Linked DNA regions of Homo sapiens. The protein of the gene in region 1 purifies or fractionates together with the protein of each later gene. This does not show direct contact. Each region holds a gene or a part of one and is shown on either strand. Other genes may lie near its edges. The genes, in order: GDE1, PLSCR1, PROCR and UBAC2.

Region 1 (7,963 bases):
ACTGGTGTGTGAATGAAGTAGAAAATGGGTCAGGTCAAATAGGTTCTTGGTCAGTAATTGAGGTTAGTCTAAATAGATCACCCTTCACAAGACATACGTTTGCTTGTCTTGTAAATCACTTGAGTCATTTCCTTATCACCTTTTCCCCAGACACACACATTCGCACTCGCACAACCCTGGCAGCTGGACTCACATCAGTTTCTGCCCCCTCCTTTTCACAAGGCACTCCTGAAACTTTTGATACCTCCCAGCTCTTGGCATTCTCCTAGCTTCATAATAATGACAGCTTACAGAGAGGGCTTTTCAGTGGATTAGGCACTTTTGCATCTGTGTAAATATATCTGATTCTCTTCTTTTTTATTTTTCTCTCTCTTCTTCCTTCCTTCTTCTTCTTTTTTTTTTTTTTACTTTACAGAGTCTCACTCTTTTACCCAGGCTGGAGGGCAGTGGTGCAATCTCCACGCACTGCAACCCCTGCCTCCCGTGTTCAAGCGATTCTCGTGCCTCAGCCTCCGGAGTAGCTGGGATTACAGGCGTGTGCCACCACGCCCAGCTAATTTTTGTATTTTTAGTAGAGATGGGGTTCTGCTATGTTGGCCAGACTGGTCTCAAACTCCTGGCCTCAAAGTGATCCACCCGCCTCGGCCTCCCAAGGTACTAGGATTACAGGCATGAGCCATCATGCCTGGCCTCCCTCATTTCCTTTTTTTTTCTTTTTTTTTTTCTTTTTTTTTAAACGAAGTCTCACTGTCTCCCAGGCTACAGTGCATCGGCGCAACCCCAGCTCACTGCAACCTCTGTATCCCAGGTTCAAGTGATTCTACTGCCTCAACCTCCCGAGTAGCTGCGATTACAGGCATGAGCCACCGTGCCCGGCCAAGATTTATACTTTTAAAGCTGCACTCTGGCCCATGTGGAGAATGTACTGTGGGTGTAATTTCATTCCTTTGCCACTGTTTATAGTAGTGTATCTGTTTTTGGAATACACTCAACTCACATTTATCAAGTTTTTCCTTCTATATCTCATTTATAATCTACCAGAAATTCTAGCACTGTCAGAAATGTATATATGTATGTATACATTCGACTTTACCAATAATTTTATTTATTTATTTATTTTTGAGACAGGGTCTCTCTCTGTCACCCAGGTTTGAGTGCAGTGGGGCGATCTCAACTCACTGCAACTTCCACCTCCCAGGTTGAAGCGATTCTTGTGCCTCAGGCTCCCAAGTAGCTAAGATTACAGATGTACTCCTCCACTCCCAGCTAATTTTTGTTTTTTGTTTTTAGTAGAGATGGTGTTTTGCCATGTTGGCAAGGCTGGTCTCAAACTCCTGACCTCAAGTGATCCACCTGCCTCAGTGGATTACAGAGTGCTGGGATTACAGGCAAAGTGCTGGGATCACAGGCATGAGCCACTGCCTGGCCAGCTTTACCAGTACTTCTATGTTATTCCAGTAATTGAGATAAAAAGATGAATCCCTGGTTCTAATTCACATATTAGTATATATAGGAGATATTGCAAGTTCAGTTCCAGACCTGAGTAAATAGTCAATAAAGCAAATATAGTAATAAAGGGAGTCACAAATTTTTTGGTTTCCCAGTGCATATAAAAGTTATGTTTACACTATATTGTAATCTATTAAGTATTGTGTATGTATATATATATATATATATATATATGCACATACACACACATATATAGGTTTTCATCCATGGTTCCTGGCTCATAACTCTCAGCCCTTGCTACAGTATTTTGTTAGGCATCCTAGGCCTTAGGAGCAGGCCTTGGGAAACAGAATCTCTCCTGCCCTCCTTTCACCTACCCCAAGGCAGGACTGGAATCTTTCCCTGTCTTTCAAATTGTGAGTCTTAAGACCCTCCTCAGAGAGGGACCCCACCCTATACCCTGGGGGAAGGAATGCTGACATCATGAAGCTTCCATAAAAACCTAAGAGGAATTAAAAAAATAAAAACTAAAATAAACCTAAGAGGACTTGAAGCCAATTGGTCAGAAGTTCCATAGGCCCCAGCTTGCTATTTGTGTCTGGAGGAGGGTGGGGTGCAGTCTTGGGGACCAAGCCCTCAACCTATGATCTGACACTATCTCCAGGTAGATAGTGTCAAAATTGAGTTGGAGGATACCCAGCTGGTGTCCACTACTTATTGGTGGGGAAAAACCCCCACATTTTTGGTCACAGACGTCGGGGTTGATTGTTGTGAGAGCAGAGGGAAAATGTGATGTGTTTTTCCAAAATAGTCGTACATCTGTATCACATGGGAAAAGGAAAAGATTTAAATAAAGCAGAAAAATCTCCACCCATAAAGGACGTTATTGATAAATTTGACTATATTACCTTTAAAGATGTGTTTAAAAGGACATAATAAATAACAATGGCTAACATTTATTGAAATCTTAACTATTCACTAGCACAGTGCTCTGTGTTGTTTATGGGTACTTAAATAAAAACCGGTAAGGGAGTGACATGAGAATGATATACACCAACTTTAAGATGGTAATTACCTCTGGAGAGGAAAGGAGGAGAATGAAAGGGAGAATTTCAGCTGTATCTGTAGTGTTGATAGTAAAACTGAAGCGGATAAGAGTGCAACTTCTACTGCATCCTAGCTTGTGCAGCCCTGGGCAAGTTTCCTACTCTTTCTTTGTCTCAGTTTTCTTATCTGTTAAATGAGAATATTAATAGTACCTGCTTCAGGGTTGTGAGGATCAAATAAGTTAATACATTTAAAGCACTTAGAAGAGTGCCTGGCAAGTAGAAAAGGCTCAATAAATAATAGTTTTTGTTTTTGTTTTTGTTTTAGTACAGAAAGAGACTGAGGAAATTAGGTCAAAATATTCACATATGTTAAATCTTTTTTACTGTAGATGTTTGCAATAGACCATGACTTAAAATATTTTTTAAAAAATTAAAAATCTTGATCATAGCTGGGCACAGTGGCTCACACCTGTAATCCCAGCACTTTGGGAGACTGAGGCAGGAGGATTGCTTGATCTCAGGAGTTCGAGACCAGCCTGGACAACATGGTGAAACCCCATCTCTACAAAAAATACAAAAATTAGCTGGGCATGGTGGCACGTGCCAGTAGTCCCGGCTACTTGGGAGACTGAGGTGGGAGGATGGCTTGAACCCAGGAGGCGGAGGTTTTAGTGAGCCGAGATCATGCCACTGCACTCTAGCCTGAACAACAGAGCCAGATCCTGTCTCCAAAAAAAAAAAAAAAGAAAGAAATCTTCATCGTAATGAGCATTTCACATCTTTATTGTGATGAGGAAGCCAAGGAAGCAAACATTAAATAGTGTGTCTCCAGAGGAGCATGGCTCGTGTAATTTAAGGTTCAAATTCTCTTTTTAGATAAATTCTAATCTACCTCATCAAGCTTAACAACTTATGGGCCAACAGCCAGTGCTGCTTACATAAACAAAATGTGATATGTCCTAGAAGCAGGCGTGGTGTCTTTGTGGTAGAGGGTGGAATTAAACCAACAAAAACCTGACTCATTTATGCCAAAGTAGTGAAATATCTGACTAATCAACAACCGTAGGGTGATCATCAGAACTGCTGTACCAACAAATAGTGTAGGTAAACAGTGGAATTGTCTAAGTATTCATAAGCCATTGATGACCCATATAGTTAAACATCCAGAGAAAACATAAGTTCCTGAAGTCTCCTAGTCTTCCACTGTGAAAGTAAGAAGAGTGGGAAAATTAAAGTTTTTAAGGAATCCATCAGTTAGGAATTGAAGTAAGGTTATATACACAGAAAACAGAAACAGATCAGGATTGCTGTTTGGTGGGGGAAGTGGAAGGAAAATGAATCAAAAAGGACAGCTGTCTTAGGAGCCCTGCTGGTCTTTTGGGTGGTTAGATGCAAAATAATGTTTGTGGCCATTTGACAGTAATATTCTTGATGTTTTTGTTAAGGCAGCTAAGAATGGAGCAACAGGCGTGGAGTTGGACATTGAGTTTACTTCTGACGGGATTCCTGTCTTAATGCACGATAACACAGTAGATAGGACGACTGATGGGACTGGGCGATTGTGTGATTTGACATTTGAACAAATTAGGAAGCTGAATCCTGCAGCAAACCACAGACTCAGGTAAGTAGTTTATTGTCACTTAAACAGATCTTTTAGCTTTTATTGGAAATGACAGACACTGGTGCCTTCTAATTACATCTGCCCCAGGAGAGTTGTCTTGTTTTGTTTTGAACTGTACGTAGGTCTTGTAAGTAATGAGCAAGTGCCAGGAACAACAGAAATTTGGCATTATGTTTTTAATCTTTCCCACTGAGGCTAAATTTGGCTTCAGAATTATTGTCAAGATAATACTGTCTAGTCATAGAATCATGAGGCTGAAAGTCATTGCTTGGCAATCTTCTTGCCTTCAGGTGTACCAAGAAGCAAATTATACATTCATTAAAAGCTTCAAGTAACATTATAATATCACATTTTAACTTAACCCATTTAATTCTTCTGATCCTCATAACAAACTTCTGAGGAATCACAGAATTGTAGGAATAGAGAGTATCCTAGAAATCATCTAGAATAGCACTTTGCAGTAGAACTTTCTGCAATGATGGAAATATTTTATATCTGCACTGTGTAATATGGTAGGTACTTGTGGCTATTGAGCACTTGATATGTGGCTAGTGACACGAGGAAGTGAATTTTTAATTTAAATGTAAATTTAAACTGAAATAGCCATGTGTGGCTACCATATAGGATACTACAGATCTAGATCAATCTTGCCTTTAGATATAATCCCAGAAAAGTTAAATTATTTACTCAAGGGCAAATAACTAGTTCATAAAGAAGCCAAAACTAGAATCTATCCCAAGTTTTAGTCCAAATCATGCTGTTTTTAGCTGCCCCCAATGTCTTTCAACCCTGTAAGAGCAAAAGTTCTTTCAGTGTCTAATTTAATTCCTTCCTGGTAGAGTGTAAACGTAGCTTCCAAAGTATATACACTAGAGCTAATCTTACAAGATGTTCTGCAAAAACAGGGTTCAAGTAAGATCAAACAGTGTATTCTGAATACTTCTGTTGTGGATAAACAGTCCACATCAGCTGATTCTTACTTGTAACTTAGCTTTTCTCAAACTTACATGATCACAGAACCTACATCCTCTTCCCCACTTACAGCGGTAAACACCCTTGGAATTGGTATGCTGAGTAATATACTGTACTTTGGAATGTGGTTATTTAAATCCCTCTCTGCTTGTCATCTTTGCAGTACTGAAAAGGGTGTGCTCACTGGTTATTCATGTAATATCAATTATCCAGACAATGATCGATTCTCTTGGAAAATTAAGTATTTGACCCAACAGTTAAGTTATACTTTTTCCTAAAAGATGATCCAGACCTGTTTTCCTAGGATCTGAAAAACATTAGTCTGCCGAAGGAAGTCATACTGTAGGCAGGAAAGAATATTGGTAACACTTGAGAATTATGAGTCCAAGTTGCTAGAATTGTTCTTGAGTGTCATCAGATACTGTATTGCTCTGCTTATGCAAGGGAAAGGCTGGTTTGAATATTATAATGACATTGCAGCTAATAAAATGTCAGGTTCAAAGTTAATACTTAAAGCAAAAATGTTTAGGGTCATCATTACCCTTAAAAATCCTTTAAGGGAGCACTGAGTCCATTTCTCTGGAATTTGTGCATCCTAGGAAAAAAAATTGTGATTTTCAAAAAATCCCTTAAGAAGACAGCAAAGGCAACATATTATCTCAGTGTCTTTAACACAACCAGTCTTTGCTCCACTATTGGAACAGAGTGTGTTCTATGATTGAAAACTAAATGAAGTAATTGGCTTGTGTTTACGGATTATGTTGTGGGAAAAAATAGATATTTTCTCTAGAATTATGCTCAGTGTGATGAGATGCTTGTCCTGAGAGGAGGATAAGGAGGAAACTAAGATCAGCCAAAGGAATAACAAATTCAGGTCTCCCATCTTTCACTCTCAGGGAATAGAAATTGATTAGAATGGCTGGGATAATTGCCTGTAATGTTTAAATTATCCTTATCTTTTTTTTTTTTTTTTTTGAGTTGGAGTTTCACTCTTGTTGCCCAGTTTGGAGTGCAATGGCATGATCTTGGCTCACTGCAACCTCCACCTCCCGGGTTCAAGTGATTCTCCTGCCTCAGCCTCCAGAATGCTGGGATTACAGGCACATGCCACCACACCCAGCTAATTTTTGCATTTTTAGTAGAAACGGGGTTTCGCCATGTTGGCCAGGCTGGTCTCGAACTCCTGACCTCAGGTGATCTGCCTGCCTCAGCTTCCCAAAGTGCTGAATTTACAGGCATGAGCCCACTGTACCTGGCCTATCCTTACCCTTTTTTAAAAGCATGATCTTACAGTTGAAATAATGCAGTTGAATTAGCATTAAGTTAAATAATAATTTTATTATGAGAGAAAAGCTAATTTCTTTTGTATCAAGCACTTAGTTTTCATTTTCTTTATCAGAAAATTATGTCTTAGAACATTATTTATTTTAAACAGTTGCACTTAAATAAATACACAATACAGTTAACAGATTTATGTATTCCTAAGAATTCCTCCTGCATAGCATTCTATTAGGGAAATTACAATCTGAAAATTAAGTCTTTGAGTTTTCCAAAGGTGGCATATACTCTGCCCTTTGGGAAGTAGGGTTATTAATAATGTTATTAATTCAATAGAAATTCAGTGATTTCTTAAAAATTAAATGATTTTTGTTGTTGTTGCTGGTCTTTGGTCAAGAATATCTGTATTTGAACACATGGAGGTTCCTGAATGATGGAGCACTCAGAAAGGGCATGGAAGCTCTATGCCCCTTTCCCCATACCTCACCCTATGCATGTCTTCATCTGTATGCTGTGTAACATACTTTATAATAAACCTGTAAACGTGTTTGAGTTCCGCAAGCCACTCTAACAAATTAATTGAACCCAAGGAGGAGGAGGTGGGAACCCCAATTTATAGCTAGTGTCAGAAGCACAGAATTACCAGAAAAGGAAAACAAATCAAAACAAAACAAAACAAAAAACAGAAAAATAACATCCATTATACAATATAAGAAACCAAAGACCATCAATCTCTAATCTCTGTGCTCAGGTGTCTGTGTGCTTCAATTCTTCTCATCTACGAGTCTTGGGTTTTCAATGCTCACTTGTCACCAGGATATGAATTAAAAATGTCTTGGGCACCACCATGTGGTCCAGTTGTCTTAACCTTTCTAAAAGTGCTTGTGCAAACCATTTACTTGTTGCTTCTTACACAATTACAGCCCAACCTACTTGTGTTTAAAAGCAACCACAGCATGTTTGAAAGTCTTATGCAATAAAAGGGAAGTTTATGATTACATTTAGTCTGTACTTACTGGATACTTTCAGTTTTATCAGTTCCAAGTACAGCAAACTCTGGATAATATGGTTAATTACTTCCTCCATGATTCTTTCGACCTTCATATCAATTTTGCTAAATATGGAATGATTGACTAGCCAGAGCAATCAGGAAAGAGAAAGAAATAAAAGGCATCCAAATTGGAAAAAGAGGAAGTCAGATTGTACCTCTTTGCTGACAACATGATTTTGTATGTAGAAAAACCTAAAGACTTCACCAAAAAACTGTTAAAACTGATAAACAAATTTAGTAAAATTGCAGGATATAAAATCAACGTACAAAAATCAGTAGCATGTCTATACGTAAATAATGAACTAGCTGTAAAAGAAATCAAGAAAGTAATCCCATTTACATAGCTACCAAAAAAAAAATAACAAAATACCTAGGAATAAATATAACCAAAGAGGTGAAAGAGCTCTTACAAGGAAAACTACAAAACACTGATGAGAAAACTTAAGAGGACACAAATGGAAAGACATCCCATGCTCATGGATCAGAAGAATTAATATTCCTAAAGTGACCATTCTACTCAAAATAATTTACAATTCAGTGCAA
Region 2 (7,963 bases), on another chromosome or scaffold:
TTGCCCTTTTTGATTACTACAGCAAGAAATTTAACAAAGTAGAGAATACATTTTTTATGGCAAGGATAAGAAATGCAAATAATGATCTTCAACCAATAAATTAGCAGGACTAGATAATTTTTAGCTAAATTGTAGACATTTTGGAATAGAAAATCACTATAATAAAATGTCAACATTTGGAAATAATAAATTGGTATTGTATAATGTTAAACTTTCAAATCCATGAGTGCAATACTAATTGGTAAAAGCATTCTAAAAAGAAAACCATAGATTCATCTCACAATGCAAATATAAATGCAAAATACTGAAATATAATGACAGCATATAGGATCTAGGTATGTAGCAAAGAAATATAAAAAGTGTATCATGAGTATATTAATAGTTGCTGGTAAGCTATTTTATTTACTTACTAATGATTTATTTATTTACTGTTATTACACCCAATTTTCATGTAAAAAAACTAAAGCAAAGAGAAGTGAAAGAATTTGTTAAAGTCACATAGATAAGTGTTGTGAAGATGGGTTTCAAACCTGGGCATCTGGCTCCAGTGTCTATACTCTTGACCATTAGGATTGTCTGCTTTTTAAAAACATATTTATTGAATACTAATGAAAATCTAGTTGAGAGGGCAGGAAAAAAAATCTGTGGGCTATAGTTGACCATATAAAATTTATCACTACTCAGGATCAGTTTCTATATTTTGAGATTCCTGAAACACAACAGTGGCAGGAATTCAGATTTCAAGCTCATAGACAGAGCTGACTTGGTATGTCAGTTTCATGTGGCCATATTTTTTCCCCCTACCAAGAGTCCTTGAAGGAGACAGACTCTCTTATCACCTATATTGGATAAAAGGTCTACTAGGCTCTCTCTTACTCACCATTAAGATAACCTTCTTAGAGATTCAATTACTGTCTGTTTGCTGAAAACTCTCCATTCTTTTCCTATACATAACTAAAATCCAACATGACCTTAATTCAAGTCATTAACTTCCCATATATATTTTATATAATCAACTACAGCTCATTGATTATATTTTGCTGATCCCTGACCTAGATGTGTATTAGTATTTGATACCTTACTTTTTAAAAAGCAGACTATCATAATGGTCAAGAGGACACAAATCAAGTGTTTTTCCTCCAAGATTCTTAACTTGGCCAATGTAATATCAGAATAATAACACATCAAGTTTATCTCCAAAATTTTTTTCATCCTCAATTGATATCAAATCCATGAATTAGTTCCACATAGTACACCTATGAAATGCCTCTTGAGTTATTCTCTGTTTTAGAATGACTCCTGCCCCTGCTGTGGAACAGGCTTTTATCTCTTTTATTACTTCAAGTTTCCATGCCCAGTGACACCCTGGTGGATTTCATGTTCCTTAGTGGTCCCTCATACTGATAATTTCTGCTTTGAGGTGTCAAAGTTTCCATTGTCAACTCTATGGAAAATTCTTCAAGTGACTATTTCTCAATTCTTTCCATGAGAGTACCTTGATATCATCATTCTAGATAAATAGAAGAAAAGTTAATTTATTACATGGAATGGATGCTTTAAGGTATCCATCAAGAAAGACTGCCAGATGAAACATAAATTTTTTAGTATCAAATACAAGGATTACACAATGTTTTTCCAGTGTTTTCATTTATTTACTAAAAATAAAATATATGCCAGCCAAACTTCTGTTAATATTGTTCCTTGAATGAGAAATTACTTTTCACTTCTCTGGATGTAGGACAGAGATTCCATCCCTTACATGAAGAACTGCTATTATGCATACCCTTACATAAAATTTTTATACATGCATATTATGCACACATATACATACACACATTATATAATCCCCTTATAAGAGCCTTTTTAAAGTTTCTATATCACATCCTCCTTAGAACTGCAAATCTCTGTCATTAGATTATGAAGTCAATGGGGGAAAGGATTCATCTTTATATAGCTAAAGTCTGACGGAGGAATAAAATACCATGTGATTAAAGAAGGCAGGCAGATCACATAAATGAATGACACTGGATATTGAAAAACCTCAGTAAGGGGTGGAGACAGTGGTAGAGTTCCCATGTCATTATTACAAGGGGCAGCCCCACACATCTTTAGTAGATTTTTACCCTTTTGTTGGAAAGGTGGGCCCAGTTAACCCAATTTTCTGATTTTCCAAGAGAAACAAGAAATCAAGATTAAGTTATAAAACCTTCTGATTTTTAAACATTTGCAATGAAAAAATTTGGATTGTAAAAGTAGACCATCTGTTGTTGAAGAGCTACTCTAATGAAATTCTACAATGTATTACAGTAAATATACAAATATTAATATGTTGCAGCTTCTAGTGACCTAATTTAATATAGGGAAAAGGAGAGACCACAGAGAAGCATAACTGGGTAGTACATATTATACTAATTTTCTCAAAACTATCTTTGCATAATTGGGCTTCTTGTAGGAATTCAAAGATGTCAGACATTCTGAACATGGCCTTGAGCATTGGCAGATGATATTTCAGATTTAAGAAGGATCCATATGCTTTGGCAATCAGACTTAGATGGCAAGGTTAACGTTCTGTTTAAAATGGATAATATACAGTGTCATCACATAGAAACCACCACGTTTAAGTGAGGGATGATTTGCTTATTTTTATTTGACTACATAGGTCTGCTTCTTTTTTTTCCATTTCTCATGACCAACAGTGACCTTTAATCAGAGTGATAACTACCACTCTGCCCAAAGTTAAATAAATGAGAAAATCATCTTGCTATTGAGACATTGGCACACAACACTTATTTAATGCATTTATAATGTCCTGCAAAATTACATTCTTCTTATATTAGGAAAGCAAATCTTATAAACATTATGACATCTCTTACCTCAAAATCAACATCTCCACAACAGCTGCACACAACACATGGACCACTTATTTTTAGTACATCCTCTCTTTTCTCATTTTGAATTGTAAACTTTGGTAGACATGGGTGCCAAGTCTGAATAACATAACCTATTGGTACACCAGGAGGAGCTTGGATTTCTATCTACAAAGGCAAAATAATATATGTAAATGTAATAATCATAATGCCTAGGTTCGATGAAAGGTTCAATGACAGGGCAGAAATTCTTGCTGAACTATTTTACAAAGTGCCCTGGTAATTGATCACAGACCTCCTGAAGGCAGCAGGGACAACAACAGCTGCTACATCTTAGTGGTCTCTCCAGAGTTATGACTTCTTGACCCATATTATCAATAATCCTCAAGGTAAAAGGTCTAGATGGCCCACAGCAATTTCGGGTACAGCAATCAGTATCTTCCGCTGCAAAGTAAACCCTCTGTCCAAAGCTGTTCTTAATTTCATATTTGTTATTAGTTTCAAAACCTGTTAAAACTAAAAACATAAAAGACGAAATCATAATCACCTCTATGTTAAAAATATTGAATTTATCCAGATATTATAATATCTAGCTATGCCAGTTTTTGATGATACCCCAAGTGGCATAAGGAGGAGAAGAAATGATGTTTAGAGATGATCCAGACAGAGAAAAATGGCAAAAAAAAGGAGAGATTACCAATGTATAGAGAAATTAAGTCCTTATGCCGTGGGGAAAAGAGAGATCAGATTGTTACCATGTCTGTGTAGAAAGAAGTAGACATAAGAGACTCCATTTTGTTCTGTACTAAGAAAAATTTTTCTGCCTTGAGATGCTGTTAATCTGTAACCCTACCCCCCACCCTGTGCTCCCTGAAACATGTGCTGTGTCAATTTAGGGTTAAATGGATTAAGGGCTGTGCAGGATGTGCTTTGTTAAACAAATGCTTGAAGGCAGCATGCTTGTTAAGAGTCATCACCACTCCCTAATCTCAAGTACCCAGGGACACAAAACACTGTGGAAGGCCACAGGGACCTCTGCCTAGGAAAGCCAGGTATTGTCCAAGGTTTCTCCCCATGTGATAGTCTGAAATATGGCCTCCTGGGAAGGGAAAGACCTGACCGTCCACCAGTCCGACACCCGTAAAGGGTCTGCACTGAGGGGGATTAGTAAAAGAGGAAGGAACGCGTCTTTGCAGTTGAGATAAGAGGAAGGTATCTGTCTCCTGCTCGTCCCTGGGCAATGGAACGTCTAGGTGTAAAGCCCAATTGTATATTCCATCTACTGAGATAGGGGAAAACTGCCTTAGGGCTGGAGGTGGGACGTGCTGGCAGCAATACTGCTCTTTAAGGCATTGAGATGTTTATGTATATGCACATCAAAAGCACAGCACCTTTTTCTTTACCTTTTTATGATGCAGAGACATTTGTTCACGTGTTTACATGCTGACCTTCTCCCCACTATTATCCTATTGTCCTGCCACATCCCCCTCTCCGGGAAACGCCCGATAATGATCAATAAATACTAAGGGAACTCAGAGGCCGGTGCTGGCGCGGGTCCTCCGTATGCTGAATGCCAGTCCCCTGGGCCCATTTTTCTTTCTCTATACTTTGTCTCTGTGTCTTTTCTTTTCCAAGTCTCTCGTTCCGCCTAACAAGAAACACCCACAAGTGTGGAGGGGCAACCCATCCCTTCATTATGTGAGACACTGGAAACAAGTTATATTTTCCTAATTCCATAAATGTCTGTCAGAAGAGAGACTTTTCTGCTGAGAGTTGGGGCAATGCTGTGGGTGGGCACGGTGGTGCTAGGTGTATAGATAAAATGTCCACTAATGCAGGATAGTTTATGTGTAATGTGGAGGGGAATATAAGAGGATTGCTGTTTATGTGCTATGAAATTTTATATTAAATCAATTGGTTTGAGACTGTCTTATAAACCTTACTTATGTCTTATTTTTTTGCAATGCTTTTGAAAGAAGGCAATGTACACGCATAAAAACCGAGGGAGTAAAAATGAAAGATGAATTAGAATGTCACATTGGACCCAGGGCATCCTTATTCAACTCAACAGTAGTTGTTCAGAAGTGGGAGGTGGGTATTAGACAAACGTGTTCGGCAACCAAGGCTTCAACTCACAGAATATCTAGACCGTGGGAATCCTAAGTGAACTCTGCACCTTTGCTGGGCTAATCTATCTTCATGAGGGAAACAGATGGCTGCAAAATGCTGACACTCACATACTTTGTATCAAGGGCTTTCCATATCTAACCATACATTGGAAACCTCTCCATATTTAAAGCCAGAAAGGAGCAATAACTGTCCCATTTGTACATAGTCCTCAGTAACTGGGGTCATAGATGTCAGAAGCCTGGCTAAAATAATGAGTGATTAAAATAAATATATGGAGGAAAAGTCACTCTATAATGCCTATGTGGAAAGACTCTGAGTCGGATAAAGACGGCCTTCACAAGTCTTACCACCATGAACTCCTTTAAGTGTCCTTGGTGGGACACAGACAGACCCTGTACTCTGCATTTATAGGAACAACGTCTGATTTCAACATCTGAAATAGTCAAATGTTTGATGAGAAAAAAGTTAAGCTGATTTTGAGAGGACATTCATTATCTAATTAATTGTTACATTAAGTAGCTTAATCTCAAAAATCTCCAGCTTATTTGTAAAACAACATTGGTTTACATAACCTTTAAGTTTCTTTTCATTTACTTTAAAAATGTAAACAAATTGTTTATATTTTTATTGTCTTCTGTGTTTTGAATTGAGAAAAAAAAGTAAGTGCCTAGTTTATGCTCAGATTCTAAAAACCTGAGTAATCTTCATCTTTTTTATACCACTCATGAAAAAATAACATAGACTTTCAATTTTGGAGAAAAAGAAACAAAAAAAAAACTGGAGACATTTCTTTTTTGAAAAATAAGCATAATTAAAAACTGTTAGATTTGGAACTTTCTATTTCATAATTAACACATATTTAACAAATATTTATAAAGCCTATAAATCTACAAAAAAAGATAAATAGTGTGCTGTGTAATGTTTGGTTATATGTCTGTTTGGATTTTATAGCCTTACTAATATATACTATAAAACATTAAAAAATTCAGAATACAAAGCTGTCTTCCAGAGAAAGCTTTGTTTAGATACACTAAAAAAAAAATCAAGTAACTTATAAATAATAATGTGCTTTACAAATAACTTCAATGTAATAGATGACAATTGTATATTTTAGCCAAATCCATTATTCTGCTTATACAATTCATCTTCTAATTTTTACCAGTGGAAAGAAACTTTGGAGACAGGTGAAAATGAATTTAGCAGACATATTCCTAAAAACTGGAGAGTTTTATTTTTTATTAAACCTTTTTTATCTAGAAGGAAAACACTATGGTTCATAAATCTATCCAGGGTCTTCTTCCCCTGGCAGCCATTATAAAACATTAATTGGCTTCCTAGGTTTATTTTTGCACCTAAGGAGCCCTGGACCCAAGGAAATGTCAGGCCATTCAGCAGGAGCAGGAGTGCTCTTCTATGAAGCCAAGCCTGCAGGCTAGTTGGTCAGCATCCTCCCACACTGCAGTGGCCTGCATCTGACCTCGTATACAAAGGTTTTATAGGGTTCATCTTAACTCCCAAGAGAAACTGTGGGCACAAATGATAATTTTCCCAAACTTCCTCATCCAAATAAAAAAGATAACTTACTTTGGAATGTGGCTCTGTGCCATTCTTAAGCTGATCACAATTACGGAGAAAATAGCTTAAGTGGTAGAAGTCAGAAAAAAAGTGATGTATGAAGAGAGGAGCAAAATAAGGGTTTTGATTATTTTCCTTCTAAGTTAGTGTCAATATCCCGAGGGCAGGTGCCCAACATAACAGCATTTTACCTTTTGATTCCTAAATTTTAGAAATGAATTGCTGATAACATTTATTATTGTAAATAACTGGTTTAACTGTCCTATATAAGTGAGAGTGTTATATTTGTGGAGGTCAATGTGCCTTTATCTGCATAAACTTCTACTCTTTATAGAAACAGGATTAAAACAATGAATACATACCTTCCAGAAGTTCAATTTGCTGATGAATCAGTATCTGATCTATCTATAGCAGGAAAAAAAATAAGTGGTATGTATATGTCAAATGAAGGTTTTTATAAGCTAACCAAATTAAAATTCATGTATTTATATTTTTAAAGTACATGTAACCAATTATCAATATTTAACAGCTTATATTACTTTTTAGTGTAAAACTGAAGTTAATATTTTTAATTAATAAAATATTTATTGTGTTCATTATTAATGTGGAAAAATTTAGGTCAAATAAAATTGATTTATACTGGAGTACCTTTAAAAATTAGACAATTGAGGTGGCTCATGCCTGTAATCCCAGCACTTTGGGAGGCCAAAGTGGGCAGATCACGAGGTCAGGAGATCGAGACCATCCTGGCTGACATGGTGAAACCCTGTCTCTACTAAAAATACAAAAAATGAGCTGGGTGTGGTGGCAGGTGCCTGTAGTCCCAGCTACTTGGGAGGCTCAGGCAGGAGAATCGCCTGAACCCAGGCGGCAGATGTTGCAGTGAGCCGAGATCGCGCTACTGCACTCCAGCCTGGGCAACAAGCGTGAGACTCCATCTCAAAAAAAAAAAAAAAAAAAAAGAAAGAAAAAAAAAAGAAAAGAAAATTGATACAAAATGGCCAGTAAGTTTATGAAAAAATGCTCAACATCACTAATCACCAGGGAAATGAAATCCAAACCACAATGAGATATTATCTTTGTACAGTTAAGAATTTTTATCAAAAAGACAAAAAATAACAAATAATGGTAAAAATGTGGAGAAGGGGAAATCTGTTGGTGGGAAAGTAAATTAGAGCAGCCATTATGGAGAACAGTGTAGCGGTTCCTCAAAAATTAAAATTACAGCCACCATATGATTCAGCAATCCCACTACTGTTTTTTTTGAAACAGTATTTTTTCAAAATTTTCAAAACAAAAATTTTAAAGGAAAGGAAATCAATATGTCAGAGGTATCTGCAATCTCATGCTTATTGCAGCACTAACAGTCAATATATAGAATCAACCTAAGT
Region 3 (5,736 bases), on another chromosome or scaffold:
GAGGGTGATGGTAGATAGGGGTACATCTAGGGGAGACGGGAAGAGGCTCAGAAGAGAAGAGAAATGGAGGGAATGGGAAGACCCTGGGAAAACTGATGGAAGAAGTGGGGGAAGAGTGGGGCAGAGAGAGGTTAGGGGAGGCTAGGGAAAATGGAAGGAGACTGGTCGCAGCTGGTGGAACTGGGGAGAAAGAGATGCTGTGCCTAATAGAACTTATGGGCGATCAGGCTACTGAAGTGGCCCTGTTTAAGCAGAAAAGGGAGTTATTACCCTCCATTATAATTGCACAGGGGCCTCCTTTCCCCTCTCTCACAATCCCCGTAACTTCAGTCTCCCCCTCAGAGAGGCAGCAAATAATAACCAGTATTCAATGAGTGCTCACTATGGTTAATACATGTATTGACCCATTTAACTTGCACAAACCCCTAAAGGTGGGTAATATTATTACTATCTCCATTTTATGAGGAGGAAACTGGGTCACAGAGTAGTTAAGGACCATGTCTAGGGTTATCCATAAATATACTTATTCACATCTGCAGATACAAAGCACAACTTCTCAAATGCAAACACAGACAGGACCCACTCACACACACAGATTTACAACCCCGGACTCATCCAAATGTGCTCTGGGCATCAACTCTGTGCCAGCCTCTTTTCTGGGTGTAGGAAGCAGAGATTACCAAGCATGGTTCCATAGCCTAGAGGAGTCCAGTGTGGCCTGTGTGTGTTTGGAGACAGCCAGGTAGTATCCCGTGAGATACACACTAATATATGGTGGTCTGGGATCACTGAAACAGACACACTGTGTCTCGTGGGGCATCAGAAAAAAATTTCCAAGAAGAGGGCAACTGAGCTGGGTCTTTTTTTCTTTGCTTTTCTTTCTTTTTTCTTTTTTTTTTTTTTTTTTTTTTTTGAGATGGAGTCTTGTGCTGTCACCCAGGCTGGAATGCAGTGGCACAATTTCAGCTAACTGTAACCTCCAACTCCCAGGTTCAGGCGATTCTCCTGCCTCAGCCTCCTGAGTAGCTGGGACTACAGGCATGTACCACCACGCCTGGCTAATATTTGTATTTTTAGTACAGATGGGGTTTCGCCATGTTGGCCAGGCTGGTCTTGAATCCCTGACCTCAAGTGATCCGCCCGCCTCGGCCTCCCAAAGTACTGGGATTACAGGCATGAGCCACCGCGCCCAGTCTCTGAGCTGGGTCTTAAATCATGAATAAACTTCGCCAGGCAGAAAAAGGGAGGCAGAGCAATCCTGACATGCTATTCATGTGTCAGCCAAAGGCAGCATGAGGAATCCCAACTAGTTTGATATATAAGCAGCGGGAAGCGGCCAGAAAAGGCAGCAGGGGCCAGGTCTCTAGCAGCCTTGAATGCCAGGCTAAAGACTCTGGACTTGATCCTGTGGGGAGGCAGTGTAGCAGAATGGCTGAGTGCTGGACTTGACTGCCTACGTGCAAACCTTGGCTCTGCTACACTATCTCTGTCTCAGTTTCCCATGTAGACTGGGGTTAATAATAGTAGCTATTGCATTAAGCCACTGGGGAAAGGCACAAAGATAATAATGTATGTAAAGCCCATTGCCCAGGTTATAATAAGCACTGAATCGACATTGGCTATGATTATTTTTGATTAATGAAGGGGAGGGGGTTATGGCACTGGAAGATTTTAAGTAGGAAAAGGACATGATCTCATCCCTGGGTCAGGTGGAGGTCGGAATAGAGAACGGGGAGATGAAGTAGAAAGTTACTACCCCAGTCTAGATGAGACGGATGAATCCTGAATCAGGGCAGTGGAAGAGGAGATGGAGAACAGGCGATGGAATTGGAATTTTATTCAGGTCAGGATTTGTTAACCATTTGTTCCGTTGGTTAACAGGAAACGGGGGGAGGGAGAGCCGAGGGTGAAAAAGGAGGCAGAAAGGAGTGTCTCTTCCACTGCAGGCCTCAGTTTCCTCATCTGTAAAACGGAGATAATAATCCCTGTCCTGTCCTCCTGGCAGAGTTACTGTCAGCGTCAAACGGGAGAAGCGGTGGGAGGGCACATTATAGTTTATGAAGGGTCGAGAAGGCGGGCGGCCAGCCTCGAGGTAGGGGGTTATTATCTTCCGCTGCCCGCCGCCCCCTCCCACGCCGGCCCAGGCTGAAGCTGACTCTGCCCGCAGGCCTCCAAAGACTTCATATGCTCCAGATCTCCTACTTCCGCGACCCCTATCACGTGTGGTACCAGGGCAACGCGTCGCTGGGGGGACACCTAACGCACGTGCTGGAAGGCCCAGACACCAACACCACGATCATTCAGCTGCAGCCCTTGCAGGAGCCCGAGAGCTGGGCGCGCACGCAGAGTGGCCTGCAGTCCTACCTGCTCCAGTTCCACGGCCTCGTGCGCCTGGTGCACCAGGAGCGGACCTTGGCCTGTGAGTAGGCGCGCAGCGGGGGCGGGGTCTGGGCGGGGCTAGTGGGGGCGGGGCCTGGCGGGTGGGGGCGGGGCCTGGCGGATGGAGGCGGGCTGGGACTTGCAGGGACCCGGCAGCCACTGGAGCTCGGTGGCGCCTGGGCCTTTGAAGATTGCTGGGTGGGGGCTGGAGAGAGGCAGTTGTCCCCGCTAAGAAAGCCCCGACTCGGGCGGTCGTCCTGCTGGCATAACCTCTTGGGATAGACCCTGTTGGAAGGCCCTGACACCGTGACGTCGAAGGTCCCCAGAAAACTCCTCACCCCTCGCCTCACAGTCCTCCAACTCCTTTTCTTCATAGATCTCCGTCCTTCCCTTCCCACAGCCCCCAGCACTTCACCCCCCACCCTCCAGCCACTTCTCATACAAGCTGATGACTTCGCTCTTAGCTCCACTCATGACCCGAACTCTTCCCCCAAAGACCCCAAGTTCTTCTCTCAAAGCCCCACTCCTTCCCCGTCACAACCCTAACTCCTTCTTCTCAAAGACCCCAATTTCTTTTCTCAAAGCACCAAGCACCACTCCGTCCCCCTTCCCCCACCATCATGGCCTTTAACTCCTTTCTCTCCTAGTCCCCCACCCCACCCCCCTTTTTTTTTTTTTTTTTTTTTTTTGAGACGGAGTCTTGCTCTGTCGTCCAGGCTGGAGTGCAGTGGCGCGATCTCGGCTCACTGCAACTTCCGCCTCCCGGGTTCAAGCGATTCTCCTGCCTCAGCCTCCCAAGCAGCTGGGACTACAGGCACCCGCCACCACGCCCGGCTAATTTTTTGTATTTTTAGTAGAGACGGGGTTTCGCCATGTTGGCCAGGCTGGTCTCGAACTCCTGACCTCAGGCGATCCACAAGCCTGGCCTCCCAAAGTGCTGGGATTACAGGCGTGAGCTGCCGCCCCTGCCCCAGCCTCACCCCCTGTTTTTTTTTTCTATTACAGTTGAACAAGGCCTGACAATTCCCTTTTTTCATCACAGTCCCTGGCCCCTTCTTTCTTAGCCTCTAACAGGCTAACCCCAAACCCCTCCTCACAGCCCCAGGCCCTTCTCCCCATAGTTCCCTGACCTAGACTCCCCTCTCCTCACAGCACTGACTCTTGCCTTCTCATGTTCTTTTCCCCTTGGTGGGCCTCGCCCCACACCTGGCACCCTCTCTGCACAGTCCCCTGACCCTGACTGTCTATCCACAGTTCCTCTGACCATCCGCTGCTTCCTGGGCTGTGAGCTGCCTCCCGAGGGCTCTAGAGCCCATGTCTTCTTCGAAGTGGCTGTGAATGGGAGCTCCTTTGTGAGTTTCCGGCCGGAGAGAGCCTTGTGGCAGGCAGACACCCAGGTCACCTCCGGAGTGGTCACCTTCACCCTGCAGCAGCTCAATGCCTACAACCGCACTCGGTATGAACTGCGGGAATTCCTGGAGGACACCTGTGTGCAGTATGTGCAGAAACATATTTCCGCGGAAAACACGAAAGGTATGATGGGACGGGGCCCAGGCCTGCAAGCTGGGGAGAGGGCGGGTTCCAGACAAATGGATGGACCTGAAGGATGGATGCCTAGAGCAACAAGAGGCCCACAGCTGGGGGTTTGGGACAGAACACACGCAGCTTCAGTCAGTTGGTAAACGGGTCCCTTTCCTCTGGGGCAGAAACGCTTTGGGGTTTGACTCAAATCATGGACTCCTTGGGGGCCTATTCTTCGGGCTAACTCTTTGCATGTTCTGCAGGGAGCCAAACAAGCCGCTCCTACACTTCGCTGGTCCTGGGCGTCCTGGTGGGCAGTTTCATCATTGCTGGTGTGGCTGTAGGCATCTTCCTGTGCACAGGTGGACGGCGATGTTAATTACTCTCCAGCCCCCTCAGAAGGGGCTGGATTGATGGAGGCTGGCAAGGGAAAGTTTCAGCTCACTGTGAAGCCAGACTCCCCAACTGAAACACCAGAAGGTTTGGAGTGACAGCTCCTTTCTTCTCCCACATCTGCCCACTGAAGATTTGAGGGAGGGGAGATGGAGAGGAGAGGTGGACAAAGTACTTGGTTTGCTAAGAACCTAAGAACGTGTATGCTTTGCTGAATTAGTCTGATAAGTGAATGTTTATCTATCTTTGTGGAAAACAGATAATGGAGTTGGGGCAGGAAGCCTATGGCCCATCCTCCAAAGACAGACAGAATCACCTGAGGCGTTCAAAAGATATAACCAAATAAACAAGTCATCCACAATCAAAATACAACATTCAATACTTCCAGGTGTGTCAGACTTGGGATGGGACGCTGATATAATAGGGTAGAAAGAAGTAACACGAAGAAGTGGTGGAAATGTAAAATCCAAGTCATATGGCAGTGATCAATTATTAATCAATTAATAATATTAATAAATTTCTTATATTTAAGGCATTGTTATCTCCTCCACTTTGCAAAATTTCTGGAAAAGTAACCTATACCCATTTCTTCTGCTTCCTTATTTCTCACTCATTCTTTTTTTTTTTTTTTTTTTTTTTGAGACAGAGTCTTGCTCTGTTGCCTAGGCTGGAGTGCAATGGTGTGATCTCAGCTCACTGCAACCTCTGCCTCCCGGTTCAAGCAATTCTCCTGCCTCAGCCTCCCAAGCAGCTGGGATTACAGATGCATGCCACCACACCCAGCTAATTTTTGTATTTTTAGTAGAGATGGGGTTTCACCACGTTGGCCATCCTGACCTCGTGATCCGCCTACCTCGGCCTCCCCAAGTGCTGGGATTAGACGTGAGCCACTGCGCCTGGTCTTCTCACTCATTCTTAGACCCAGTGCAATCTGACTTCTCTATAAACTACTCTGAGATCACCAGTAACCTCTAATTGTCAAACCATCACCCTACATGGTATCTGCAAATTTGCGGACTAGAACTCTCTTTTTGCCTTAACTTCTGAGATACCATACTTCAATTTTTAAAACTGTTCTGTCTACTTTTTTTCAATCCCTTTGACTATGTCATCTTACACGATTCACCCTGGAAATGCTGGCTTCCTTAGAATTCCATTTTTTGGTTCCTTTTGTTCCTGTTTGAACTATACCCTTTCTAGGTGACCTACTGACCTTCATGGCTGCAAATACTATCTACCTGTGGTTTCCATGGAGAAGCAATATAATTTTATCTTTAAGAGCATGTGTTTTGTCGGCCAGGCGCGGTGGCTCACGCCTGTAATCCCAGCACTTTGGGAGGCCGAGGCGAGAGGATCACTTGAGGTCAGGAGTTCAAGACAAGCCTGGCCAACACAGTGAAACCCTATCTCTACTAAAAATACAAAAATTAGCTAAGTTTGGTG
Region 4 (7,963 bases), on another chromosome or scaffold:
TCATGGACCTTGGAGTTTGTTTCTGTTTTCATTTTCTTTGTCTTGTACTATTTTTGAGTAAAGGGGCACAGAAATTATTTGAAACCAGAAGTTGTCCACCATTCACTCTTCAGCCTACTACAGTCTGTCTTTGGTACCAAAACTGTTCTTGTAAACACCTTGTTTATCAAACACCTCCATTTGCAACATCCAGTGGCTAGTTCTGTCTTACTTATCAGCTGCATTAGATATAGCTGACCATCCCTATTTTAAAACACTTCTTAGCTTCAGTGATAACTAAACTCTATTTCCCTTCTCTTCACTGGCAGCCCTGTCTCAGATTTCCTTACTGGCGTTTCCTACTCTGTCTGTCCATAGAATATTTGTGCACTCCTGGATTCAGTCCTTAGTCCTGTTCTCTCTTCTGCTGTGTCTCCTCCTCCCCCCCATTTTATCTCCTCTAGTCCTGTTACCCTAAATGTCATATCATATCCAGTGACTCTGAAATCCTTATCTCGACCTTTTCCTTGAGTTCTAGAATTACATAGCCACCTGCCCACTCAGTAGCCCCCCAAGATATCTAATAGACACTCCCAAGCTCGGGCTGCGCAGCATCTGCTGCTTTCTCTGCCCAAAATGTTATTTCCCCAGTTCATCAAGTCACGGGCACCGCATCATCCTTAAGATCTTCGCTCAAGTATCACTTTCTCTGAGGGCTCTCCTGATGTCCCCCGCTGCCCCCAGAGTAGGTTCGTGCCCCATGTCACTTTATTTCCTTCCCAGAACTTGCCAGAAATAGTTTTATGTGTTGACTTGATTACTGCCTGTTCTCCACATTGACTGCTATAAGCCCTGTGAGAGTGGGGCCTTGCTTATCTTGTTCTTTGCTGTATTCTAAGTTCCCAGAACAGTGCCTGGTGTGTAGCACAGTCTCAAAGAATTCTTGCCAATTCATCAATTTAAATTTTATTTTTAAACATTGAAGTATACTTTTCTCATATTAGAAAGTTGTCAAATATGTTCTAATCTGATCTTCTAATCCTAAGAATCAAATTCACATCAAGATTTTTTTTTTTTTACAAAGGAATAGCCATAGTCATTTTTAACTAGAAAATCATAGGAAGCCTTGAGACTTCTGTAACCATACATTATAAATGACCTTCAAGATGAAGACAAGGTTGGTTTATAAATGGAACTAATATTGGTGAGGATTTTAAATGTCTAGAAAAATCAGTAGTTGAAAAACTGATTAAAACACTATGTAAATAAAAACCAAGATTTTAGATTGTGTTTATTCTCTGATAAATTGATCGTGTGACTGGGTCAGCTGAGACATGGCAGTTGTTTTCTGCTGGTGTCTCTGTGATGGCCATCTGCCAACAAAGGTAACCGCAGAGTCAGTACAGTGTGAAAGTGTTTCAATAATCAGATCTTTTACGGCTTTTTAAAAAATGAAGACAGTGTCTTGACAATCTTTTACCAGAACTTTGAATACTAAATGATTAGAATTTTGCTAGCTCTTCTAATTCAATAAAAAACAATTTTGTTTTACTAAGTTCAATTTTGTGTTGATTTGCACTGCTTAGTGTTCTGCAGTGTGGTAGAGGATTTTGCTTATTGCCTAACACTGCTATGACTAAGAAAAATACCGTGTGCAGTGTCTGGAGGCTGCTGATTTTTGAGTCGTGTACATTTTTTAAAATAATACTACATTTAAACAATCACATTGGACGTTTTTCTTCTAGATGTCCGGTCTGTGCTACGACAGCAAAATGTTCCAGGTGCATCAGGTGCTCTGCATCCCCAGCTGGATGGCAAAATTCTTTTCTTGGACACTTGAACCCATCTTCTCTTCTTCAGAACCCACCAGCGAAGCCAGAATTGGGATGGGAGCCACGCTGGACATCCAGAGACAGCAGAGAATGGAGCTGCTGGACCGGCAGCTGATGTTCTCTCAGTTTGCACAAGGGAGGCGACAGAGACAGCAGCAGGTAAAAGTGATAATAATCACTAAAAATTTAGAAATTCTCAGTGGCCCAAGCAAATCTTTCCTCTGTGATTGCATGTGAGATAGAGACTACATTTTATTCCAGTGCCTTGCAAGTGGATTTTGACATTTCCAAAGAGATTGTAGGTCTCTGTTAGTGGCCATTCTTAGTTTTTTAAAAAGGTAAAAAATAAATTGCAGCTGAAAGATTGGTCAAACTGGACATTCTTGTTCCACCTATATTAGATAAGCATGACTTCTTAGAGAAACACCAACCTAGTTAACAAGATGTGCTATTTATCTGTTTTTATAATCTTGTAAAAGCCACAGTGTCTTCCTGTTAAAATGCTAATCATATGCTATGGAGTGAAGAACAAATGTAAAATTTCTTGATTTTCCTTGGTTGAAATGAAGAGAATATGAAGGCAAGAAGATTTTCAGTGGAACAACCAAGGAGTAGATAAAAAAAAATGCTGTGTTTTCTCAACCTTGCTATCAATAATCAGAAATTATTGCACATTTGTCTACAAATTCTGCATCCAAACAATCTGATACTACATTTGTCTTCCATGGGCAGTGAGAGAAGGAGGGTTAGTGCACATCAGGCTAAAACCTCAGGCCTGATCTTTCTTGGACACTTCTGTGAGCCAGCCCACAGGGCTCCCCATTTTTCGCCTCCACCTTCTTTACCCCTGGGGTAGTTGTAAACCGTACAGTTACCTCTGCCATCTCTCTGTCTTCCACTAGCATTGGATGCAAGAAGTAGGTCTGCAGATCTCACGATGGTTTGGAGAAGTGAAATCAGGTTTGAGGTCCTTAGAGTCCCATTGGAGATGCAGGTCCCAGAGTTTATATCAGGGGGGGGGAGGAAGGGGGCAGCTTATTAGGGGCAGAGTCTACAAGAGAAATAGAGAAGCAAAAGTTGTTTCTTAAAGATGTGCTTGAATTTGAGTGACTCTGGAACATGCCATAAAGATGCCCATGGTGTATTTAAAGCTGGAGGATGGACATCTCTGTCTTGGAAATGTGGAAGCTACATATATATATAGGTGATGGAGTCACCTCTGTAGGGATGAGAGCTGAGAGCCGAAAGCAAAGAAGTAGTAAGTTCTGTAAGAGAAGAGCTACATCCAAGATGAACACAGGCTACAGATGAAGCCTCGTATTTAGCAGGAGGTAAATCCTTCAAGGAAACTGAGAGAAGAGCGAAAGGTATGAGAAATCAGAATGATCAAGGTCAGAAAAACTGAGTAGTGATTGAGTATAAAGGTAGAGGCACAGAGCTTATGAGGGAGAGAAAGAAGTAGGGGATGGTTCTGATGTTTCTGGCCTAGATAATCTTAGATAGATGACTGATAGTTCCATTTCACCAATATCAAAAGAGCAGATTTGGGGGAAATATGTTGTCTGAGATACCTTTGGAATCCTGGGAGGAGATTCTCCATTGGAGAGCTTTGAATTTGTCCTCATAAGCAAACCAGAGAAGTTGCATTTCTCAGATTGGCCTCCCCAGGAAGATTTTTATACAAAGAGTTTATGAGAGAACACCGTCAGCATCAGTATCTATGGGGGCGGGCTGGCGAAGGCAGCAAGATGGGACAGAGGGAGCAGCTGCAGTTCCAGCAAAAGCCTCGCTGGTCTTATGGAGCACAGTGAAGCTGGGAGAGCCCTTCTGAGTTGTCCCAAAATGGGGACCAGTCCTGTTGGGTAAGTCCCATGCGTACGACCTCTTTGAACCTTAATTACCTCCTTAAAGTTCCTACCTTTAAATACAGTCACATCGTAGGGTTAGGGCTTCAGCGTGTGAATTTGGGGCAGGGGCAAGGGGTGGGAGACAGTGTGTTCCATAACACTGCAGAGTGGAAAGGGCCCAGCATAGTCTCGGCGCTGAGTGACTGTTCTGCTTGCAGACGGTAGTTATCAGGCACACACAGTCTCTGTGGATGCCAGGTTGGATGCTCCATAGTGGCAGGAGATAGGTCGGCCTAGGTGAGGGGGACCCACACATTCCTCTGTGCTACCACCATGGCCATCCATTCGTGTGCCAGCGCTGGGTTATCTGGTGATGGAGCCACAGTCATTCTGTCCACCTTCCATTTGGTGCCTTTTCTGTGGTGGATGCCCGTGGTGGGCACGACCTGCAAGACACTTGATGCTGTTCCTTTAGCTGGATCCTCCTTGTTCCCTCCCTTCCAGTCCCCTGACCGACCAACCAGGTGATCTGCCATGCCCAGCAGATCCACACGTGTAATTGCCTCAGGCCACTTCTCTTCACACAGAGTTGATGACCAAATGTGCTGCCCAGGCTCTGCCCATAGGGGGTTCCCCTGATCGCTGTCTTTCAAGATTGAGCCATCATGCAGCCGTTTCTTTCAGCTGCCACTCATGTCCTGAGCCAGCCTGTCCATTTGGCTGTTTTCCCCTCTGTCACTTGGTCATGAGGGGCCCACCAGCTGTGGTAGTCGGTGTTAGCTGGGAAGAGGCTGTGGTGCAGCAGAGGTGGCTGCCAGGGTGGTCTGGCATGCCTGCTTCTGCAGCTCACCCATGCCCTGCAGCCCCACCTATGCTGAGCCCAGATGCCCGTGTCCATCTGATGATGGGTTTCTGTCGGCCCACCTGGCTTGGTAACTTGGTGGGTCTCCACTGCTGACCACATGCTCACTTTGTGGCCTACAGACAGGCACTTCATGGTGCAGCAGCAGTTTATGCAAGTGGGATTCTTGGCTGTTTGCGCACGCCCTCGCTCCAGGATTCTACGGACCCCCATTGTGGTTCTCCTTTCCTGCCTTGCTGTAAACTCCGCACGGTGTCTTTCCCCCCAGATACTTGGAACATCACGGGATCTGCCAGGTTGTACCCAGGCCTCAGGGAATGAGACAGACCCAAACCCCTGCCCTGCTGGAGCGTGCATTCCCACCAGGCGCCTGTGAAGTGGCACAGGCCTTTATGGCTGTCTACACTGCTGTCAGACTCCTCCACTTTCATAGGATGGTCTCACTAACAGATCTGAAGTCCAGAGCAGGACACCAGCCCCTGGGCTCTTGCTGGGCTTTTACGTTGAGTGGTCTGCTGGGCAGCACAGACCAGACTCTTGATTTTTTCCTAAGCTTCCTAAGTTCTCTTCTAGGGTCCGCACATGGGTACACCCAAACCTGAGCACTTAGCCTCCTGCTGAACTTCTTCACTCAGCTGTGTCTCAGTTTTCTTCACATAAGTATGATAAATCACCACGTAGAGAACTCTTTTGTTAAACCACCACTGGAAATTATCTGCCGTATTTGTGTGCATGCACGAGTACCGTACAGGGTGCAGTTGTATTGGAATGTAATACCAGGAGAAAAGTTTATTTTCATTTACTTTTCAACAAATAAGTACTTAGTGCTTATTATATGGTAGGCCTAGAGCTGGACATTGAGGACACAGGTGTAAAAAAGATAGCCCCCAGTCCTTTTTCTTATGGAGCTTAGGTCCTGTCTCTCTTGCAGAATTAGCATGTTTCACTCTTTATCAGTAAGAAGACCACCACCATTTATTTTGCCAGTCCTATAGTAAGTACTCAGTATATGTTATCTCATTTATGCCCGGTGTACGCCTAGAGAGATGCAGGTATTCCCTCATGACCCCGGAGGCTCAGGGGAGTGCTTGCTTGTCCAGGGGCATGCAGCTGTTGATGGGGATCTGGGAGTGAGACCCAGCTGTGTCTGACTCTGAGGTCTCTGTTTCTGATCCCTAACTCATATACCTCCCAATATGAGAGCTCCTTGGTGATTTGTTTTCCCCCTTTTCACTTTGGCTGGCAGGAAACTCAGTGCCAGGCTTCAGGTTTAATTAGGGTTAAGTTAGAACTTTTGCTTCCATCTTCTTCTTTATGTTTCAAATACATGTTTTTGTTGTTTGCTCCTGTATCTTTTATTGTAGGCAATCTCATGCTGTGTATTTCATTTAAAATACAACTGTTATTTATTTAAAAACTTGATTTTTAGATGCTTTTCATAGAATCTGAGTTTATTTAGTCAGAAAGTCATTTTTTTTCAGTTACTAACTGCTGTATGTTACACATGATCTGTCTGCAGTTTTTCATTTCAGGTATTCCAAAATAACACTCAAGTCTTGATTCAGTGTTGTATTTCTTTAGATTTCTCTTGCCTGCTTATGCCAGAGTTCATCCTGCCATCTGGCAGGTGCTCGCTGCCACCCCCTGCCACGTGCTCCTCGTGTGGCTCTGGGGGCACAGTTAGACAGTTAGACTGCTTGGGAAGCTCTCTGACCAATACTGGTGGCTTCGCTGTGGGCACAAAATAAATGAAGAACATGTCCTTTCCCTCCGTGAGTTTGTGGCCAACTTCAGGGAGCTCAGGCAGTTGTAGTTGAAATAGATGAGCATCCAAGAAACAAGGAAATATTTACTGAAGCACCCATGCAGTGAAAATCTGAGGAGAGAGCCACTGGTGTGGACTGATGCTGCCAAAAAAGATTTCAGGAAGTAGAAGGACGGGTGGAATTTGGATGGGTGGAGAGGGTAAGGCACATCATTCCAGAGGAGAGGACCAGCAAGAGTGAGGCATGGAGGTGCTAATGAGACCTTAAAAAGGAGAGACCTCCAGGAGCCCTGTGATTGACATGTGGGCAGATATGTAGTGAGAAATGGGAAATGATATAGTAACTGATAATGGAGGGAGGTAGTTTAAGCCTGACAATAGATTTCGGCTTGGACATTGGCTGTGAAAAATTGTTTATTCAGTAACAAAGATAGGACAGTTATCTCAGAAAAATGTCATTTTATTGCACAGTGTAAGATGGACGGGGGAAAGGAGAAACCACAGAGGAGGAGACAAATAGAAGGAGGTTTCTAAAGCCCGGCTCTCAGAGGAGTGCCTTGGCTGGGCTGATGCTGTACTCTGGATCGAGCTCTCCTTCCTCTGTTCACTCCCTAAATAGGTTGTTTCCCAAGACTCAGTTCTCTGCCTACTGAGCTTTTCACGTTAGACACCCAAGGGGACCCACCCAGCCCCTGTCCTCACCACTTTATTGAGCTCATGGCTCCCATGAGTCCCTCAAGATCTAGAGACTGGACCTCCCTCTCTCCTGGGGCTCCAGACCGAAATATCCTACTGCCTATAGTACATCTCCACTTCACTGTCCCATCAGCTCTTGACAGGTACTGTTTCTTTTTTTCTTTCTTTTTTTTTTTTTTTTTTTGAGACAGAGTCTTGCTCTGTTGCCCAGGCTGGAGTGCAGTGGCGTGATCTTGGCTCACTGCAACCTCTGTCTCCTGGCTTCAAGCAATTCTCCTGCCTCAGCCTCCCGAGTAGCTGGGATTACAGGCGCTCACCACCACATCCGGCTAATTTTTGTATTTTTAGTAAAGACGGGGTTTCACCATGTTGGCCAGGCTGGTCTTGAACCCCTGACCTCATGATCCACTTGCCTTGGCCTCCCAAAGTGCTGGGATTACAGGCGTGAGCCACCGCACACAGCCGACATGTACTGTTTCTTTGCTAAATTTGTTTCCCTTTCTCACTCCCTACCTGATGAAAAGCACCCATTGTTTACCCGAAAGTCCAAACCTAGGGTTTCACCCCAGACATTTCCCACTTATACATCCATGTCCTTCCTGCCTTCCCCACCAGTTCAGCCCCAAAGAGTCTCCCTCCTTGATGTAAGTCCGTCATTCATCTCCAGTGCTGTAGTTCAGGCCACCGGCGCCATTTGCCTGGATTTCTTCCCTCCCATCTCCATCACCGACTGCCTCCCTCCTGAGCCTGCCCCACAGCCTCCACCAGTGATCTCTGTGAAAACAGAAATCTGCTTGTTTCACTCCAGCTATCATCCTTCAGGGCCTCTCCATAGCTTTCAGGGTGGTTCCAACACAAGGCTCCTGCCTGCTATGTGGCCGCATCTCCTTTCTGCTGCCGTGTGCAAGCCCTTAGGCCAGCCATGCCTCACCGGGTTACTCACAGTTAACTGCTGCTCATATTGTTTCACGCAGTCTCACCT

The links.
Region 2: the proteins of GDE1 (region 1) and PLSCR1 purify together in Homo sapiens (affinity purification with mass spectrometry; 2 studies listed by BioGRID and IntAct, with this or other methods). This does not show direct contact.
Region 3: the proteins of GDE1 (region 1) and PROCR purify together in Homo sapiens (affinity purification with mass spectrometry, with the first as the bait; one large-scale study listed by BioGRID). This does not show direct contact.
Region 4: the proteins of GDE1 (region 1) and UBAC2 purify together in Homo sapiens (affinity purification with mass spectrometry; one large-scale study listed by BioGRID and IntAct). This does not show direct contact.

The regions. Positions count from the first base shown.
Region 1 is NC_000016.10:19,513,170-19,521,132, reverse strand, and holds part of GDE1 (glycerophosphodiester phosphodiesterase 1), read left to right. Parts: intron 1-3,943; coding exon 3,944-4,119; intron 4,120-7,963. UniProt on the Homo sapiens protein: Hydrolyzes the phosphodiester bond of glycerophosphodiesters such as glycerophosphoinositol (GroPIns) and glycerophosphoethanolamine (GroPEth), to yield a glycerol phosphate and an alcohol.
Region 2 is NC_000003.12:146,518,671-146,526,633, forward strand, and holds part of PLSCR1 (phospholipid scramblase 1), read right to left. Parts: intron 6,978-7,963; coding exon 6,935-6,977; intron 3,384-6,934; coding exon 3,163-3,383; intron 3,036-3,162; coding exon 2,874-3,035; intron 1-2,873. UniProt on the Homo sapiens protein: Catalyzes calcium-induced ATP-independent rapid bidirectional and non-specific movement of phospholipids (lipid scrambling or lipid flip-flop) between the inner and outer leaflet of the plasma membrane resulting in collapse of the phospholipid asymmetry which leads to phosphatidylserine externalization on the cell surface.
Region 3 is NC_000020.11:35,172,535-35,178,270, forward strand, and holds the end of PROCR (endothelial protein C receptor precursor), read left to right. Parts: intron 1-2,167; coding exon 2,168-2,419; intron 2,420-3,633; coding exon 3,634-3,912; intron 3,913-4,163; coding exon 4,164-4,279; 3' UTR 4,280-4,828; downstream 4,829-5,736. UniProt on the Homo sapiens protein: Binds activated protein C. Enhances protein C activation by the thrombin-thrombomodulin complex; plays a role in the protein C pathway controlling blood coagulation.
Region 4 is NC_000013.11:99,338,596-99,346,558, forward strand, and holds part of UBAC2 (ubiquitin-associated domain-containing protein 2 isoform 1 precursor), read left to right. Parts: intron 1-1,724; coding exon 1,725-1,970; intron 1,971-7,963. UniProt on the Homo sapiens protein: Restricts trafficking of FAF2 from the endoplasmic reticulum to lipid droplets.